2 separate regions of the Homo sapiens genome follow, and region 2 is linked to region 1. Evidence: fine-mapped expression QTL. A gene starts in region 1. The other region holds a variant in brackets. All regions are shown on one strand. Distances are from middle to middle.

Region 1 (4,392 bases):
TGCATAATGCCTGTATTTTGCTTTTTTTTTAGGTTAATATTAACTAAGTAAAATAAAATACTATAAATTCTGAATTCGATGACTCTAGGGATTCGAACACATTAAAATTGTGTGTAAACGAGTGCTAATTACATGATATTAACTATTACTAAAGAAGGCCTAACATAAATCCTATCACTCAAAGTACCATTCCAACAGTTCTAAACTACGTGATTTAAATCTAACCTACCTGTTTTAAAAATAGTATATGGTTTATACTTTTTACTTTTTAGGCAGTTTGAATAAATGATACTGTATCACTTCATATCTGGTTCAATATGAAGGCGTTCTGAAATTATTATGCGATTATACAACACATCTCTGAAAGCAGTATTATTTTAGCTATAATGATAGTAAAGGCAACAAGCATACTAAACGTGATGACAGGAAACACTAACATCAACCATTTAGATAACGGAGACCTGGATTCACAGTCCCAACATCCAGGATGCTCGGGGAGGGAGGAAAGTGGTAAGCAGAGACTTAAGGGCATCTTGGAAATACCTAAAGTCACAAGCCTTTAGGAACGGCACACCGAGGCTAATAATCAGTTTAAAATCGAATTAATTTAGCATTCTAGAATAAATGTAACAATTGCTGTCACTGGTGCTCAAGCTGAATTCTGAATCTTATAAAAGTTCACAAAAGGCTCTATGGATGTGAAGTGTGACAGGCACTCACTGTAGAGCTACGAATGTTTCTATTCCTTGCTCAGTTTTTACAGACGAAGCACACGTTTTACAAAAGCGAAATGGATTCCAAAAGCTCGGGGTGGGGGTGGGGGGGTGGAGGTTCTTTGGCGTCGAAAAACACCAAATCCCATTCTGCTGCACATGTTTTGACTGGAGGTTACTGTCTTCCTATTTCAGGCGAAAACCAGATTACTTTTAAAACGGTTCCCCCAAATAAAGTGGGAAAAACTTCAACGTACAATTTAGAATGTATGCAAGTGGCTGATGGGGCGTGAGGGTCACGAGAAAGGAAGAGTTTCCAGCAAGCTTATTTTTAGGATTAAAAACGACAGCAAAAATTACACGGCCGGAAGATTCTTCTGATTGAATGCTGAGTTGAAAATGAAACTTAATTGTGTCCTTTACGTCCTCTTCGCTCCTATGTTCATGTGGGAGGCAAACGGCAGAAACCCCTTCTCACCGACTTCGCCAAAATGCGCACTTCCATCGCAAGAGGCCCGGGCCCTCCCACTCTCCCTCCCTCAACCCCAAATGCGTCTAAGCACTGAGAAGGGAGAGGGGTGCGAAAGAAGGGGATCCCTAGCAGCTGCAGCCCCTTGCCTCTGATCGCGCCCTTTCTTGCTAGTTAATTTTTGCGCGAGGTGCGCGGTTTGGAGTCTTCCTGTGTGTGTGCATTTGGAGATGGAGAACCGGGTGGAGGAGATGAGCCCCGCTCTCACCCAGGGGGAAGAAGACGACCAGGGAAAGGAAGGGAGGAAGAAGGGGGGCGCCCGATTCCCCGTGGGGCCCTCCCACGTCTGCACTTCGGGCGCTCAGGGCCCGAGTGTTCTGCGCCCCGGCCACCCTCTTCAGGGCGCCGCCGGGCTGGCTGGGGCGCAGCCCACACGCCCGCGGGGGCGAAGCGACAGCAGCCGCAGGGCTGGGAGCGAGGAGCCACTCACCGCAGCACGCCGAGCCCAGCAACAGCGCCGCTACCAGGGGCCACATCTCCGCGCCCGCCGCGGGGTCGCCGCCGCCGCCGCAGGTGTCCGGAGCAGCAGCCGCCGCCGCCGTTACAGGCAGGACCGACCGCCGCCGCGCGTCACAGGCAGGACCCACTGCCCAGGCTGCACGGCCGCGCGCACGCGCGCTCCCACTGCTTCCCGCCCGCTCCCCCGCCTGCTCCCCGCCCGCGAGAGCCGCGCACGCGCACTCGGCCCCGCCCCGCAACCGCTGCTGTTGACGCGGCGCCCTCCCCAGTCGCAGGCTCCAGACCCGGGGCCCGCCTGCCCGCTCCACGGAGGCCGGATGCCTGCTCCAGGGCGGTGGCACGCGCCGCGCTTCCAGGTCACGTCCTGTCGCACCCGCCCGCCCCTGGGGTCCGCGTGCTCGCCCGCCGCAGGAGGCTGAACCCTGTGTTCCCACGCTCGCCGGGGACCTCATTGCACCCGTTCCTGTCCGCGGGTCGGTTCCTGCCTTTCGCGCGGCGCTGGGCCCCACTGTCCTCTCTCTCTACTTTTCTCCTCTTTGCTTTCACTCCCACCCTCGCGCTTCAGGGGCCGGGTCCCGTCCCGCCCCAGCCCGCGTCTCTCCCTGGACCCGACGTCCGGCTGCGCGCGTGGACCAGGACACCTAGGCTTTCACCAGCGCCCGTTTCCTCCGGACGCGGCCGTCTAGCGCCGAAGCGGTCCCTGAGCCCGAGGCCGCCACGCCCAGGGCAGGGCGGTGGTCGGGTACCTGCCCGCAGGGAGCTTCCACTCGCCCCTCGCGGGCTCTGCGTTCGGCTCGTCTACTCGCTCTGCTCTTCCCTATGCGGTTCTCTTCCCTCTTTCTCACTTGGTTCTTTAGTGTTTTCATCCTCTGATCAGGGTTAATCAAACAAGTTCCATTCACGGTGGTAAACATTGTTACCTGTGAACACCGCCACCACCGGGACTAGCGAGCATTGTCGCAAACAGGCATTAGCAGCGTATCCAACACATCCCCACCAGCAAGGTTATTGAGCTTGGTTTGTGACTGCCCCATGTGCAGCCCTCTGCGCTGCGCTTGGGTTTAACATGCTTGAAAAATGGGTTCGAAATGTGGCCGCAAGCCACAATAGGGACAAGGCTTTTGAATTTATCGCTGAATCACACAGGCCACATCATTCATCCTGAAGCAAAAGTCTTTTAAAGATACTTTTAACCGTTATCCTAACTGATGTACTCTCTTATCAAAAAGTCAGGCTCTGGTGGCTGCTCTAATGGAGTGCACATCCTGTCCACCTCCTTGATTGTTTTCCTCCTACCTCCTGGGAAAGAAAGCAATTTCCCACCACAATACCCCACTTCTCCAAATCCTCTACACAGTGCGGCTCCTCCCAAGCATCCCATTGCCACAGAAATAAAATCCAGCGTATGAAAGTGGCACTGTCTATGACACTCTGTACCAGTGTATTGTATACTATCGAGCTTCTTCCTGTAATTGCTTTTTTGTGTGAACCTCTTCCCCACAGCATTATCAATTCTTTTAAATCCGAGAGCATTTTAAGTATTCCCTCCTCCAAGACTTTCCATTGAGCTCGGCAAACAGAAGGGGTTTAATAAATGTGTTGATGCGGCGTGAGGCAGGCATTGCTCTAGTGAAATTTGATTGCTTTTTTAATGATTGAAAAATAAAAACAATTGCCTGGCAGACATCTCACTAAAACAATGGTTAATAATTATGGTGGTAATGATTTGAATGGCAGCCTTGACACCCCGAGGCAACCAAAGGGACTCATCGATTCTCCTCCAACTGCTGCTTATGTGGATACAAAAGAATCATCCACCAGACTTTGAGCATTAGGGACATTGTGTATCACAGAGCAGCTGGTTGGCTAAATAAGGCTGTCAGCTGTCCCTGATACCAACCAACCCCCCTAAAGCTGAAGAGTGACTAGAAAGGACTGTCCCCAACCTTCAGAGGTGGAGATCGGGTGATGTTCTGTTTTACACTGGGAGCTACTGAGCTATATGCTTAACGTCTTTTTGTGCAGAAAATGGAATGAGAGGCCACCTGGGTGACCACTGCTGCTCTTGGGAATCTAGCTGGGGTATGTTTTGGTGGTGGGGCAAAAGCAGGCATATCCCAGGAGAGACAGTCCAAAGCAGCCTGCCTAGGTTTGATTATCCTCTCTCTGAGATAACCTTAAGCTCTTTTCAGTATTTAATCATTTTAAAGGTTTGCCTTTTAACTTTTCAAAGCATTTTAATTTGGATGTTGAGCTCATCTTATCTGTATGTAAGGAGTTTCTTGGGTAGAGAGGGAGGGGATAATACATATTAGAATGTTTTGAACACAGGAAGTACACATTAGCTATATCACCTAAGTTAATCTTCATAACAACCTCAGAAAGGATAAATGTTATGATCTCCCTTTTTGAGATGAGGAAACAAAGGGAAAGAGGAATGGTGAGCACTTTGCCCACAGTTATAAGTGACACTGCTCTCTCTCTTGTCTCTCTCCCTTGTTCTGGTTTTCATCCTTTTTTCTTTTTACCCTATAATAGCAAAGTTGCTACAGTTTCCCCTTTACAGATAAATAAACTTAAAAAAATCACTCTTGTCACCTTTATAGATAAGGAAAGTGAGGCTTGGTCACAAGCTCAGGGAGGGACGGTGGTTGGACTGAAGTCTCCCTGACTCCATGGCCAGCGAAAAAA
Region 2 (4,392 bases), 110 kb before region 1:
CAAATTCTCACTTAACAATTTTATATGTAGATCACCTCCAAGCAAATCTGCTCCCCAGCTAGAAGGAGTACCCTGACCTAGAATCCATCCCATCCTTCCCTCAGGAAACAGTGGGGATAGGGACTTTTAGGATACTTCAGAAAGCATTTTTTGCACTCCAAGTCCAGGACTATTTGTGGTGTTTCCTATAGGATGAAGTACAGATTGTCTCCTCACTATGCAAGCTCATCCAATAGGTTGTCACTGAATCAAGTGCATCATATTCTTGCAGGTAGATAAGGTCCTAGAGAAATCATTAATTATCAGAGACAGAAATTTCTGAATCTTAACTGAGGAGGAGACACTCTTTCTAATGGCAGCACTAATTTTGCACAACTAACTCTTCCTCTAGCAACCTTAGCACTTGACATCTACCTGCAAAGCAGACTTCAGCAACCCTTTGTTCCTCTTCCAGTTCCAGACCATGCCTCAGGGCCTGCAGATGCCAAAGAAAGGACCACTCCTCAGGCACCACCACATCATGGCAACATCTCAGCAGCTCAAAGACGTGGCAGCTGTGTGTGTGTGATTGTACAGAAAAGCTTCAGCAGCTTTGAAATTACTGTGTGCTTGTACAGAAATGCTTTCTAATTACAGCCCGGCTTCCCCTCCCCACCTAGAACATTCTGCAACTCCCAACAATTCTCACTACTCAGAGGTTCAAGCAGTTGAGGGACTTTAAGCTCTATTAACTTTATAGAAAATCTATGTCTGTTTGTATGTCTTTCTTTTGCTGAAGCTGTTTCATTGAAGTCCCCCCACACTTTCAAAATTTAAAAGGAAGCAATGCTAACAGGAAGTAATGCTTTGTAAGTAGGTCATCATATTTCTGATCAGGGCACACTTAAGAAAATTTATTTTGTAGAGGCAGGTTCTTGCTGTGTTGCCCAGGCTGATCTCAAACTCCTTGCCTCAAGCGATCCTCCTGCCTTGGCCTCCAAAAATGCTGGGCATGAGCCACTGCCTGGCATCAGGGTCCACTTTTGATGCACTCAAATTATTACCTCTCCAATCCCCACCCCCTCACCGCCTCACATCCCCACATATACATAGTTGCTTATCTCCATCTAACAAAGCCAGCCTGCACTGTGCATGAGATAGTGATCTATATGGAAGATTCCAGACTTGCCTTTATGGAGACAGCAAGACTGTTCTGATGACCACCTCCGTATTTATTTTTCCTCCAGGATGAAATTTACTCTAACTTCCCAGTTGTCTGCCCTGTCATCCACTAATAGAAAAGATCTTGTGTTAATCCTACCTTTTCCGTCCAGGAAGGAAAAAAAGAGCTCATCCCAGCCTGTTGTGCAGCACCACCTGCCCGTTTGTCCATAGCCAAGCAATGATGGATCTGTGCTAGGGGGATGAATGGGAATTGTGTTTATTTTATGAGCTGCAGAAAGTTGGCTAGGGAACCCAGCAGGAGGCTTAACTGGAAAAAAATGATTTTATCTTATGCTGTGTATCTGCTGTCTAGAAAAATATATGGCATTATCCTGGCTTGAAATTGGGAAAGAAAATAAAGGAGGACGGACTTTTTTTTTTTTCCAAATACTGGATTTGAGGGATTAACTTCAGGTAGGTCTTTCTCTGTTTTTGGGGATGACCTGCTCAAACCAAGGGCCCTCTGCTCAAACTGGGTGGTGGCAGGAAGGGAGTGTGAGCCACGCAGGGACAGGGGCCTGGCAGAGGGTCCCCAGGCCAGTGCTCAGTGACCTGGAGAGAGTCCCACACTATTTGCAACCTTTTGGATGAGGGGAGGGTGCAGCTGTCCTCAAGAATTGAGAGTTTTTCTCATGGCAATATTATGATTTGTTTTCTCTTGGAAGTCACCACACTTACCTTCATGAGAATTTAGCTAAACAATTTAATATGGAACTGCTTTAGAGGATGTTATAAAGAAAAGCTCATTGTTGAAGTCTGTACTTTTAAATTTGATCGATTGATTGATCCATTGATTGGTCACAGTGTCTGAGTTGCTTTCTTGCTAAAGCAGTTCCCCTAAGTTTTACTTTGCACAAGGTCCAGATTGACTCAGGTTGTGAGAAGAGGGTTTTGGTGTGGACATTTGAAAAATATCTCACTTGCAATTCCTGGCTGGAAAACTACTGGGAAGGGGGACATAGTGAGAAAAGGATCTTATTGATGAAAAGAAACAGCGCCAACAGAGTCAAGGCCAGATGGGATTTC[G/A]TTCTTAATGTAGTAACTGTATGTCTTGTTTCTCACTCTCTTTACGCCATATGAGAGGCGACAGATACGGCAGAAAAATACAGAGGGCAATGGCAGTAGCGTGGGAACATTAGAAAGACAAGTAAAAATCGTGCCTTTAAGTTGCTCTTGCAGCCCAAGCAGTGGTCCTTGACCATGACGGAAGAGCTGAGGACCCCTGCTAACCCTGGTAGCATCTTTATACAAATTAGAAAATGTCCCCTTTCCTCCAGGAGGTCAGGCAGGGTGAGAGAGGAAGGGCTGAATTTCAGCCTCTCTGCAGTCCCTTGGGAAAATGCCCTTGTGCAGTAACAGCCTGTAGACCTGGGAGAGAAGCCCCCAGTGGCTGAGGAAAGACTCATGAACTTGAATGTCTTCCCTGGGATCAGTCTTCCTGGGAGTCCCAGCCCTCCTGGCTGGAACACAGCTCCAGGACTTCTGGGCAACCCAATTAGATGAGGGCAAATATCACAGCCACAGAATATCTTTTTATTTTTTTCTTCAGTAAGAAGCCCTTTCCCCTCAGAGGCCACTGTAATTAACCCAAGAGAGAATAAGCCATGCTTCCAGCCCAAGAAGCAGCTGCCATCAGGGTTTGACATATTTAAACTGAAAATCTGTTTTCGGGGCTCACCCAATGTATATGTCCCTCCATGTGAAAACCTTATAGTTGGTGTTTAAAAAGGAAAGAAAGAAAAGAAAAGCCACATTTGTAGTCCATCTGCCTTTATCCCCTTCCTCCTAGATCCACACCAAGTCTAACCATACAATATTCTATATGAGGGAGTTTCTCTGCTCATTAAGGAATTAGACAATGACAATCCTATTGCCTGTGCCAGGGTGGGCGCCGGCTGCAAGCTCCTTTGTCTAAATGCCACAAATTGTTACAGTTTTGCTCTGCACTTTGGGTGTTGGCGTCATCACCCTTTAATTGGCCAGAAGACTCTGCTGTAACATTCAAAAGGAATAACAACATTCTCAGTCCCTGTCCAGTTTTCAATATAATTATTTGTCAGAATCATATTAACCTGCTGTATGACAAACCCATAAAATAGATTCATTTAGGTCTCCAGGAGTCCTCCCTCATTAACTCTGATATTTATAGCCATGGCTTCAGTGCTATAGTTCTTCCTCCTGTGAAACACTGAGCAAGGATGTCAGATTTCTCTGGCGCTATTAGAGGAGTTGTTTGTTTTCCAGTGTTGCAAAGAGGAACAGAAGAAACCTAGCCATGGGTCCAGGCCCCTGCGAAACCTGATTGGCTCTTCTGCCCATTCCTCTCTTTTTAGGGAAGGGGAAGAGAGCTAAAACTAGACGCTTGCACACAAATCCTACACATTTAATAACTTGCCCAAGGTAATAAGGTAGAACTAATTAGACTGAGTTATTCAGAAAGCTGGTTCTGAAATGTGACTTCCTGGGATCAAAGTCTGGCTTTACCACTTCCTAGCTTGGGTAAATTGCTATATTTCCTTTGACTTTGGCTTCCTGATTTTAAGAGAAGGGTAATAATAGTTCCTAACTCATGGGGTTTTTGTGGGGGGTTCAATAAATTAATGTTAAGTTATTAGAATAATCTGTGGCACATAATAAGTGAAAAATAAGTGTAACTTAAAAGTGTGACTATAATTAATAACATTACCGTGAGCCACAGCTAAGCCAAGTTTTCACCTGCAGGTGTATGCCCTAGGCCAGTTGGCTTCACATTGTGTTTTAGGGATCCCTGGGATTGGGTGGAGATGGCTCAGGCTCCCCAGAGATAGAGGTCTCTTAGCTGTGGACAGCCTGGTGGGTAAAACTCATCAGAAAAGACACCCCCATCCTCCAGCCAGAGCCTTGGCATTTTTATCCATTCAATGTATTGGAATTCTAGATAAGTTCTCATTTAAAGAATGGGTTCTAAGCTCACAACAAATGGAAAACTGTGGCTCCAGATATTTGTGACCTGTGCAAGTTCCCCAGCTCATTTTAGTGGCCCTGTGAGCACCTGTCCCTGCTGCTTGCCAGGAGTTCCTCATGGAACTGTGACCATGAGGCCCAGGGAAGTTTCTCTTACTTCTAAATCTTGGGGACTCGCATGGCTACAACTTTGATTTCCTGGCATTGCCAAAGGCTAAGCGTGCTTCTAAGGGGTGTAAATGGCTG

What was found. PIP is the estimated chance that this variant, and not a neighbour inherited with it, causes the effect.
Region 2: its variant is fine-mapped to the expression of CD47 in spleen (GTEx, PIP above 0.99).

Annotation. Positions count from the first base shown.
Region 1 is chr3:108,089,191-108,093,582 of GRCh38, forward strand. CD47 (CD47 molecule) reads right to left here and starts at 1,841. Exons shown (of 11, transcript NM_001777.4): 1 at 1,673-1,841. The coding sequence starts at 1,718. RefSeq lists silencers at 1,565-2,314, 2,335-2,384, 2,395-2,454.
Region 2 is chr3:107,975,211-107,979,602 of GRCh38, forward strand. No RefSeq gene overlaps it. Among named protein-coding and RNA genes, the nearest start is that of LINC00636, 94 kb to the left of the region's middle. The variant G/A (reference allele first, on the strand shown) is at 2,230.